2 linked regions of the Homo sapiens genome follow. The protein of the gene in region 1 interacts with the protein of each later gene in a biochemical or structural test. Each region holds a gene or a part of one and is shown in the gene's direction. Other genes may lie near its edges.

Region 1 (4,688 bases):
CAGAGGAAAGAAAAGAGCATTGAAAAGAGACAACAGAGACCTGACTATTCAAATATTTTAAACATCATCAAACTTAATGTATTCTGTCTCTTTTTTTCTCAAATAGTACACTTCTGAAATCATTTTGAGTTTTATAGGATCGGTCTTTTCCCATCAAGTCATCCCCTGAGAAGCTGCAGTTAAACCACATGTTGATAGTTTATATTACAGGTCCATTCTAGTGTACCCATGGAAGAAATAATACTATAAAGAAGTCTTCCCATTTATTGAATACCTATTTTTGTGCCAAGTGCTTTTACATGTTTTAACTGTTATCTTCATGACTGCTCTATATGGAAAATAGTAACTCCATTTTGCACACAAAAGGCATCAAAGTTCAGAAATGTTCGTACTCACTGAAGGCACACAGAAGTTAGTGGCAGAACAAGAATTTGAAGCAGGTCTCCTGCAGAAAAGCTAGATGCTCTCATAGTATCTGTCAGATAACATAGTTGAACCTGAAAGAGGGTGATCAGGAATGGTACACTGGATAACTCCCACACTAAAGAATGTGAGTCGACAACACGTCTTTATGATTTGCTTTGTTCATTAGCATTAGGAAAAAACTGCTCTGTTTTCAAGAACTTTAAAAATTCAGCTTTCCTGCAATTCATAGAAGAGCTTTATTTCATTTTTCTCCTTTACAAATAAGCAAAATGAGATTTAAGATTTTAGAAGTATACTAAAAATGATTTTTAGAAATGAGTTTAGAATATCTCCAAAACATGGTATTTATGATATGACCATTTTTAAAAGAATTTTAAATTATTATTTTTCTTTTCCTTTTGCAGCAAACTTGTCTCTTACCTTTATCTGACCTACATTGGAATAGCGAATTATCACTAAATACATTTTACTGAGAAAAATCTGATGTTTTTGCATTTATCTTAGGAACCATGGACACTGAATCTAAAAAGGACCCTGAAGGTTGTGACAAAAGTGATGACAAAAACACTGTAAACCTCTTTGGGAAAGTTATTGAAACCACAGAGCAAGATCAGGAGCCCAGCGAGGCCACCGTTGGGAATGGTGAGGTCACTCTAACGTATGCAACAGGAACAAAAGAAGAGAGTGCTGGAGTTCAGGGTAAGTGAGCACACAAATTACGTTCTGTTGGTTGGCTGGGGAGGGGTCAGTCCTAGGTGCAGAAAGATATCTGCTAATCTAAAGATGATATATCAATATCTAGTTTAGTGTACTCTTCAAAGTTCTGTATGCCTTTGGAAAAGCATATGTCAGATCATTTTATTCACACTGGGATTTCCATTTTTGCTCTGTTATCTTTGAATGTAAAGGACAGAAATTTATATGTACATTCTCCAGTCATAATCATGCAGTTTTAGGGTATTGTGAGAGATAATCAACTTCTTTTCTGGCACAGATAAATAGAGAAGTATTTCCACAAGCTTAATAGTCACCCTGTCTAGATTCTGGCTTAACCGTCATACTGAAATAGAACTTTGCCTTAAAATAGGAACTTTTCTTTTTATCTTGTGCCCTCTTTGAAGAAGTAGGATTAGGAGAAAATGTACTTTTGCGTTTACTGTGAACCAATACTTATTAGCATATGTGTCATGATTCTAGGTCATCCTAGATCGTACTAAGAAGACGTCTATAAAAGCAAAGGTAGTAAATATTTAGAGTTGGTGGCCACATGTGGTGTCTATCACATATGCTTTTTTTTTACACCCCTTTAAAAATGTATAAGCCATGATTAGCTAGGGAGCTATATGAAAAGCAGGCCATAAACAGGTTTTGGCCCAAAGGTCACAAATGCCATTCCCTGACCTTAATGGAACAAACTTTACAAAAACGTGAGTGGCTCATTGAACGTCTCTGTTTATGGCAGAGATGTGTGTTTTTTCACACATTGCCTAACAAGCTAATTGTTAGAGATTCCAATGAAGGATTATTTCACCAAGATATTGGTGATTTAAAATCATGGTAAAATCTAACATTGTTTGGAGATTGTTTTCCTTAAAATAACAGATAATGGTCGTTCCCTTAAAATAATACATTTCTAAACTTTTTTCCTCTAACAAATCATACACAGATTCTTTAAGATCAATCTCTAACTATATTTGTCAGTGACCCAGTGTCCAATTCTGCTTTTTCTAGTCCACACAATCCAAAAGCATTGAAAGAACATTTTCAACTAAAATGATATGTCAAGGTGTCAGAACACTGATGCTGGTCAGTTTGTCCTTAAGCATGCCATACCCATAAAACAAAAGTAGGAACACTCAACTATGATTGTGGTCATTGCCTTACAGATAACCTCTTTCTAGAGAAGGCTATGCAGCTTGCAAAGAGGCATGCCAATGCCCTTTTCGACTACGCGGTGACAGGAGACGTGAAGATGCTGCTGGCCGTCCAGCGCCATCTCACTGCTGTGCAGGATGAGAATGGGGACAGGTAAGTCAGAACTTTTGCATGATAGGTTGTCCTGGGTGGGGAAGAAGAAGAGCATCGTATAATGCATACTGACTAGAGATAAAAATAATTGTTCAAATATATTGAGTCCTCTAACTGGAATGATGAAGAAAAATAATGTGTGAATAAGGTTAAGTAGCACAATTTGCTGCTCCATCCTGCTGCTGTCATCTGTTGGAATCTGTAGTAGCTGGAGGACTCATCTAAGAGTGAATCTCTCTGGGCAAGAAAACTAAGATGTGTGTAGGTAATGGTACTTTTTGAAAAGCCTTGCTTTGTTTATTGAAGTAATATTTGGAGAATTGTTAAGAGTCCTACCAAATCCCTGAAGCATTGTTATCCCAGCTGCATATTTATGACAGTGTACTCAAGAAAAAGCCCAATAAAGGCAGCAACAACAACAGAAAGATTAAGAGGGACTGGTCATTATTTCCCAGTTACTGGTTTCTTCTCTGCTCCCTCTTCTGATGGTCATCAGTCTATGACTGTTTCAGACTTTTGTGACTGCTCCAGCCCATATGTGGGAGTGGAACATTCCAAACACCATGCCTTCCATTCTTGCTATTACTGAGATTGTATTTGCAAAGCCACCTGGCTTCTTTCTAAAACAGTTCTCTTAGTCCTTTCATTGAGACTTCTAAAATGATCTCAAAAGCCTATAAAAATAACAAGAGACAGCAGCCTTCACATTCAAGTCAAGTGCCTTATCTAAAACCTTCCTAAAATAGCATCAACATAGAGAAATCCTTTTCTGTGGAAGAGCTCTTGAGTGCTGTGTTTTAGACTTCAGTTTAAAAATTAAACCAAGCACTTTAGGAAAGTAACAACCTCAGGGTTTCAAGCAGAGACACCTTTGTTCTCATTCCTTGCAACGTAACCAAGGATGTGGTATAACCACTGGCCTTGTTATACAGTATGAGAGGAACCAGTACAACCTTCTTGGTATAAAGCCATGAACAGCAGAATTCTTTTTCAGGGTTAAATAATCCAGTTAGCATTCAGTAGCATACAACCACAAGAAAAAGCAGTTAACCAAGACAGTACAGCAGTGTTTCAAGTGGCATTTCCAGGGACCTGTTAAATTGATAAGTCTAAGAAGATGAGCACATACAGGTTAGAAAGGAAGTGCTGATATCTGAAGGGAGGATTGTTGGAAGGGATACAAGGCGAGGCACATGCAAGTTCCCTCCTAAGACCCAAGCACACTCACACAAGCCGGCTCTCAGAGAGGCCACAGATTTGGGACTTGGAGAGACCAGAGGATCCTCATAAGAGCATAGGTATAGGGCAGCTTTTGGCCATCACAGCCCAAGTCTCTTGTTTTAATTCAGCTCGTCATATTTGGCTAATAGTTTAAATCCTGTGGCCATTAGTCATCATAGAAAATATAATAAAGAAAAATATATAAAACTTCTGCTATTGGGGAAATTCCCATAAGGGTGTGAGGATTTGAGGGGGAGGGGGAATGTACTTCTGCTATGAAATGCTGAGCGGCACATGGAAATTTTCGAGCAGTTTTAGAAGTATGACCTTTTTCTTGGTGTATGTGCATCATGTCTATGTCAGAGTTTAGGCCCTTTTCAGAAGTCTTCTTCCAGTATCACATTTCAAGAAGCAATAGTGAAACCCTGAGATCATCCGTTTTAAAATATTTCTCAAGTAGCAAAATCACAATTTAGTTTTTTAGGCTCTTCTGTGCCGGAGTTAATCCCAAGTACGATATACTTGCTATTGCTAAGGAAGAGGCTTGAGTAAAGTGGCACCTGATAGCTTATTTTAGAGAAGATCCAGCCTGTACCTCGTGTCCCAGATGTAGTGCTGCTGCGAGATGCTTTAGTGTGCTCTGCACCTCAATCTGTCCATGCTCTGGAGTGGTCATCTTCTTAGACATTCATCTGAATGTCTTTAGAACAGTGCACATGTATCCCCTATGCAGGATTGCTTAAGGGATTAAGAGATGGCTTTGGAGTAAGACAGGCCTGGGCTTGAATCCCAGCTTCACCACGTATTGGCCTTGACTGAGTTATATGACGCCTGCAAGTCTCAGTTTCATTAGCTGAAAAGTGAAGATAATATTACCTAACTCATAGGATTATTGTTATAGTAAAAAGACAATATATATCAAATGCTTAGCATAGTCTGGTAAATCAAAGCTCCCAACAAATAGTAGCCACTGGTAAAATGATTGTTATTGTTATTGTTTTGAATTTTAATAG
Region 2 (3,981 bases), on another chromosome or scaffold:
TTTTTTGTAGAGATGGGGTTTTGCCATGTTTCCCAGGCTGGTCTCAAACTCATGAGCCCAAGCAATCCGCCAGCCTCAGCCTCCCAAAGTGCTGGGATGACAGGCATGAGCCACCAAGCCCGGCCTTTACTGCATAAAACTTTAGTTCCTGCTTCTTTGGAGGAAAGCAATGGAGGTGTTGATCGTGGGGTCCTGGGCTCCACCCCATTCCTGGGCGGGGGGGGGGGGGGGTTGGTAGTCCTGCTGCTGGGTGCCTGCCTGCCTGGGGGCTCTTGCAGTTGCCCAGATACACAGACGGGCCAAAGCATGAGTATCACAAGTGGGTGGCAGTCTGGTAGCTGCTGCTGCCTGGCTGTGCCCAGAGCCTCTCCCTGTGGGAGGCTCCAGTAGGGTCTTGAGGTTTACCACCAAGCCAGGATAACTGCCCCCCATGAAGGGGCCGGGTGCTGTGGGGTGAGGGCCATGGACCACCAAGTTGGAGTTATGTGATCCTGTAGCCAAGAGGCCTATAGTTGTGGGGACCTGTTGGGCATCTACTGGAAGGTCACACCAGCCCCAGCACCCTAGGAAATCCAACTTCCCCACCCCACCCCTGACAGCCATGGCTCTTCCTCTCACCCTCCTGGGCTTGGAAATGTGTGGATACTGTGCTGAGGGCTTGGGACACCTGCCCAGGCTGGACACCCAAGGCCAGACTGTTAGAACTGTTCCCCTTTGGGTGCCCCACTCCCGGGTAGGGGTGGTGGAGAGGAGGGAAGGGCCTCTGTAAAAAGAGGAACCAGGCTGGGTGAGGAGAGGAGGTGGGGGCCCAGGGTCACGCGGCCCCAACGGGCCGGAAAGGGCTCTCCCTCACCCCCATCAGCACAGACATTCGGGCAGGGAGTGTGCAAAGCCAAAGGGCAGACTCGGACATAAGAGGAGGCAGCTTCCCTGCCTCAGTTTACCCCCTGCGTGCATCCAGGCACCTCCCTCCCCGGCTGCCCTGGGGCCCGGGTCCCCAGAGGCCCGGGGTCCCTACAGTGGCTGGGGGAGCGGAAGGCGAAGCCCTGAGGGGTGGCGGACCGAGTCCTGCCAGCGCCGGCTGGGGGCGGGGCCGGGAGGCCCGCGCTGCTAGGTCCCCGCCCGCTGGTTTCCTCCGGGGTCAGCCAGGCTCCTTATCAGGCGCGGCCAGGCAGCCTGGCCCTTATCTGCACTGGGCCAGCATCCTCCGGCCGCTGCGCCGCCAGGGGTGAGAGGGAGGAAACCGGGCCGCCGGGGGCGGGGAGAAGGCGGGCCGGCCCGGGAGCCGCTCACTTTCCCTGGGGGGGACCTACGCGGAGACCTCGGCTATCCTGGCCTTCCGAGGCCCACGAGGAGGCGCGGCCCAACGCCGGGGCCTGGAGCATTGAGGCCGGACCCTCGCGAGACAGCAGAGCCTGGCCTGACGCTGGAAACCACACCCTGGCCCAGACTGCCAGCCCTGACGGGACAGAGCCAGGGCACTCACCAGGCTGCAAGAACAGTGCTGGGGTAAGAGGGGAGCGGGCCTAAAGGTGGAGGATCCCGGGCCTGGGACCCAGCCTGCATTCCTTTGTTCATTCCTTCATTCATTCATTCACCAGCAGGGACCCACTAGTGAGGGGCCAGGCCTGCTTCCCCAGGGCCTAGCTGAGGAAGACAGGGCAGAGGGGCCAACAGTCTCACACCTTGCTGGGACATCCTGGACTCTGGAACCAAGAGCAAACAGGGATGTCAAAACAGTATGCAAAACTGTGGATGATCGCGGGGCATTGTGGTGCATGCCTGTAATCCCAGCACTTTGGGAGGCTGAGGCAGGAGGATCACTTGAGCCCAGGAGTTCCAGACCACCCTGGACAACAGAGTGAGAACCTGCCTCTACAAAAAAAATTTTTTTTTTTAAATTAGCCGGGCATGGTGGCACATGCCTGTACTCTCAGCTACTCAGGAGGCTGAGACAGGAGGATGGCTCGAGCCCAGGAATTTGAGGCTGCAGTGCACTATGATTGCACCACTGCACTCCAGCCTGGACAACAGAGGGAGACCCTGTCTCTAAAAAAATAAACAAATTTTAAAAAGCGTGGATGCTGATGAGGATGGGGGCTTCCAAGCCAGAGGGAGGGTTGGGGCATGACTGGACTGGACTGGGCAGTGGGGTCAGTGTTTGGGGGTCTAGGGTCAGCATTTGAGGTCATAGTGTCAGTAGTGGGGTCACAGGGTTGCTATGGGGGATGTTTGCAGTGGGAGTGGGGGTCACTCAAGCAATTATGGAGCACTTTCAGGGACAGCAATGGGAAGAACCGCAGGGTCATTCTTGAGGTGCAGAGGGTCAGCCTGGGTGGGGGCTGGGGGCCTTCCGTGAAGGGTCAGAGTCCATCTTGGAGGGATTCCAAGCTCACATGGCATCAATGAGTTAATGAGGAGTCTCTGGGTTGGATCTTTAGATCTGAGGATAACAGGGTTAATCTTGGGGTTTCTGGGGATCCCAGGATCAGTTAGGGGCTCCCTGTCTTGTTCCCTCTCCAGGCTGCAGAGGTGAGGGAATTCTGGAAGAAGGAATATTTGCTCAGAGGCTGGGCAACAGCGCCCCTCCTGGGTCACAAAGAGCTCAGGGACAGTGCGCTGCCTAGCACCTGGGGGGCGCCTCCTACTCTAACGTAGGACCCCCCTCCCGTGTCCTGGAAGTTTCTGGGCCTGCCCCCGCCATCTGCCTTTGCCTACTGAAACTTCTCTCCTCCTCCTTTCCCCCTCCCCCTCCCTCCTTCCCATTTGAGGGGTTTCTTGAGCTAAGCAGGTGGGAGCGGGGCACCTAGTCCTCCTCCCCACTGGCTGCCTTCTTTCCCACAGGTGAGTACCCCCACGTCGGGGTCCATGTGCCCGCCTCAGGCACAGGCAGAGGTGGGCCCCACCATGACTGAGAAGGCAGAGATGGTGTGTGCCCCCAGCCCAGCGCCTGCCCCACCCCCTAAGCCTGCCTCGCCTGGGCCCCCGCAGGTGGAGGAGGTGGGCCACCGAGGAGGCTCCTCGCCCCCCAGGCTGCCACCTGGTGTACCAGTGATCAGCCTGGGCCACAGCAGGCCCCCAGGGGTAGCCATGCCCACCACAGAGCTGGGCACTCTGCGGCCCCCGCTGCTGCAACTCTCCACCCTGGGAACTGCCCCGCCCACTTTGGCCCTGCACTACCACCCTCACCCCTTCCTCAACAGGTCAGTGGGGATCTGGGGTGGGGGGCAGTGGGGATTGGGGGCCAGGGTCCTTGCCCACAAGGCATTAGTGACCCACGACCCCTTACAGTGTCTACATTGGGCCAGCAGGACCTTTTAGCATCTTCCCTAGCAGCCGGTTGAAGCGGAGACCAAGCCACTGTGAGCTGGACCTGGCTGAGGGTGAGTGTGGGTTTGTGTGCCTTGTGGGTTTGTATGCCTGTATGTGCACTTGTGGGTGCACAGAAGGCCTGGCCGTCTCTGTGTGGGGCTCATGTCTGTCCTCTACTCCACCTCGGGGAGACGTGCTTCCAGCACACACAGAGAACAGCCCACATAGGTTCTACCCATGTGCAAAATCGCAGTCCCATAGCCAGCCCCACACAACCACCGCCACCCAACAGGCCAAGCCATGTAGCCGCAGTCACGGCAAAACAGAGCATGCCACACCAGGGCATGGGAGCCACAAAATGACAGCTCCACTGGAATGTGCAGCCACGCAAGACAGCCACAAGACCACAGCCATGCAAGAGACAGCCACAGGACCACAACCACACACAAGACAGCCACAGGACCACAGCCACTTAGGACCACGGCCACACAAGAGTCAGCCACACAACCACAGCCACTCGTGAAACAGCCACATGGCAACATCACACATAACCACAGCCATGAGACATAACAAGAGTCTCACACAGTCATACAAGACACAGGACACAGACAGTCATAATGAGAGGACCTCTCAGACCCATGAGTACACCCAGCCAGCCGTACTTGGGCA

Evidence for each region. Proteins that work in one complex are often made in the same cells at the same time.
Region 2: the proteins of NFKB1 (region 1) and LYL1 form a complex in vitro, tested with the Homo sapiens proteins (one study listed by BioGRID).

Annotation. Positions count from the first base shown.
Region 1 is NC_000004.12:102,595,208-102,599,895, forward strand, and holds part of NFKB1 (nuclear factor NF-kappa-B p105 subunit), read left to right. Parts: intron 1-930; coding exon 931-1,125; intron 1,126-2,312; coding exon 2,313-2,454; exon of another isoform or gene 2,455-4,528; intron 4,529-4,688.
Region 2 is NC_000019.10:13,100,059-13,104,039, reverse strand, and holds the start of LYL1 (protein lyl-1), read left to right. Parts: upstream 1-1,181; 5' UTR 1,182-1,509; intron 1,510-2,844; 5' UTR 2,845-2,868; coding exon 2,869-3,203; intron 3,204-3,291; coding exon 3,292-3,383; intron 3,384-3,981.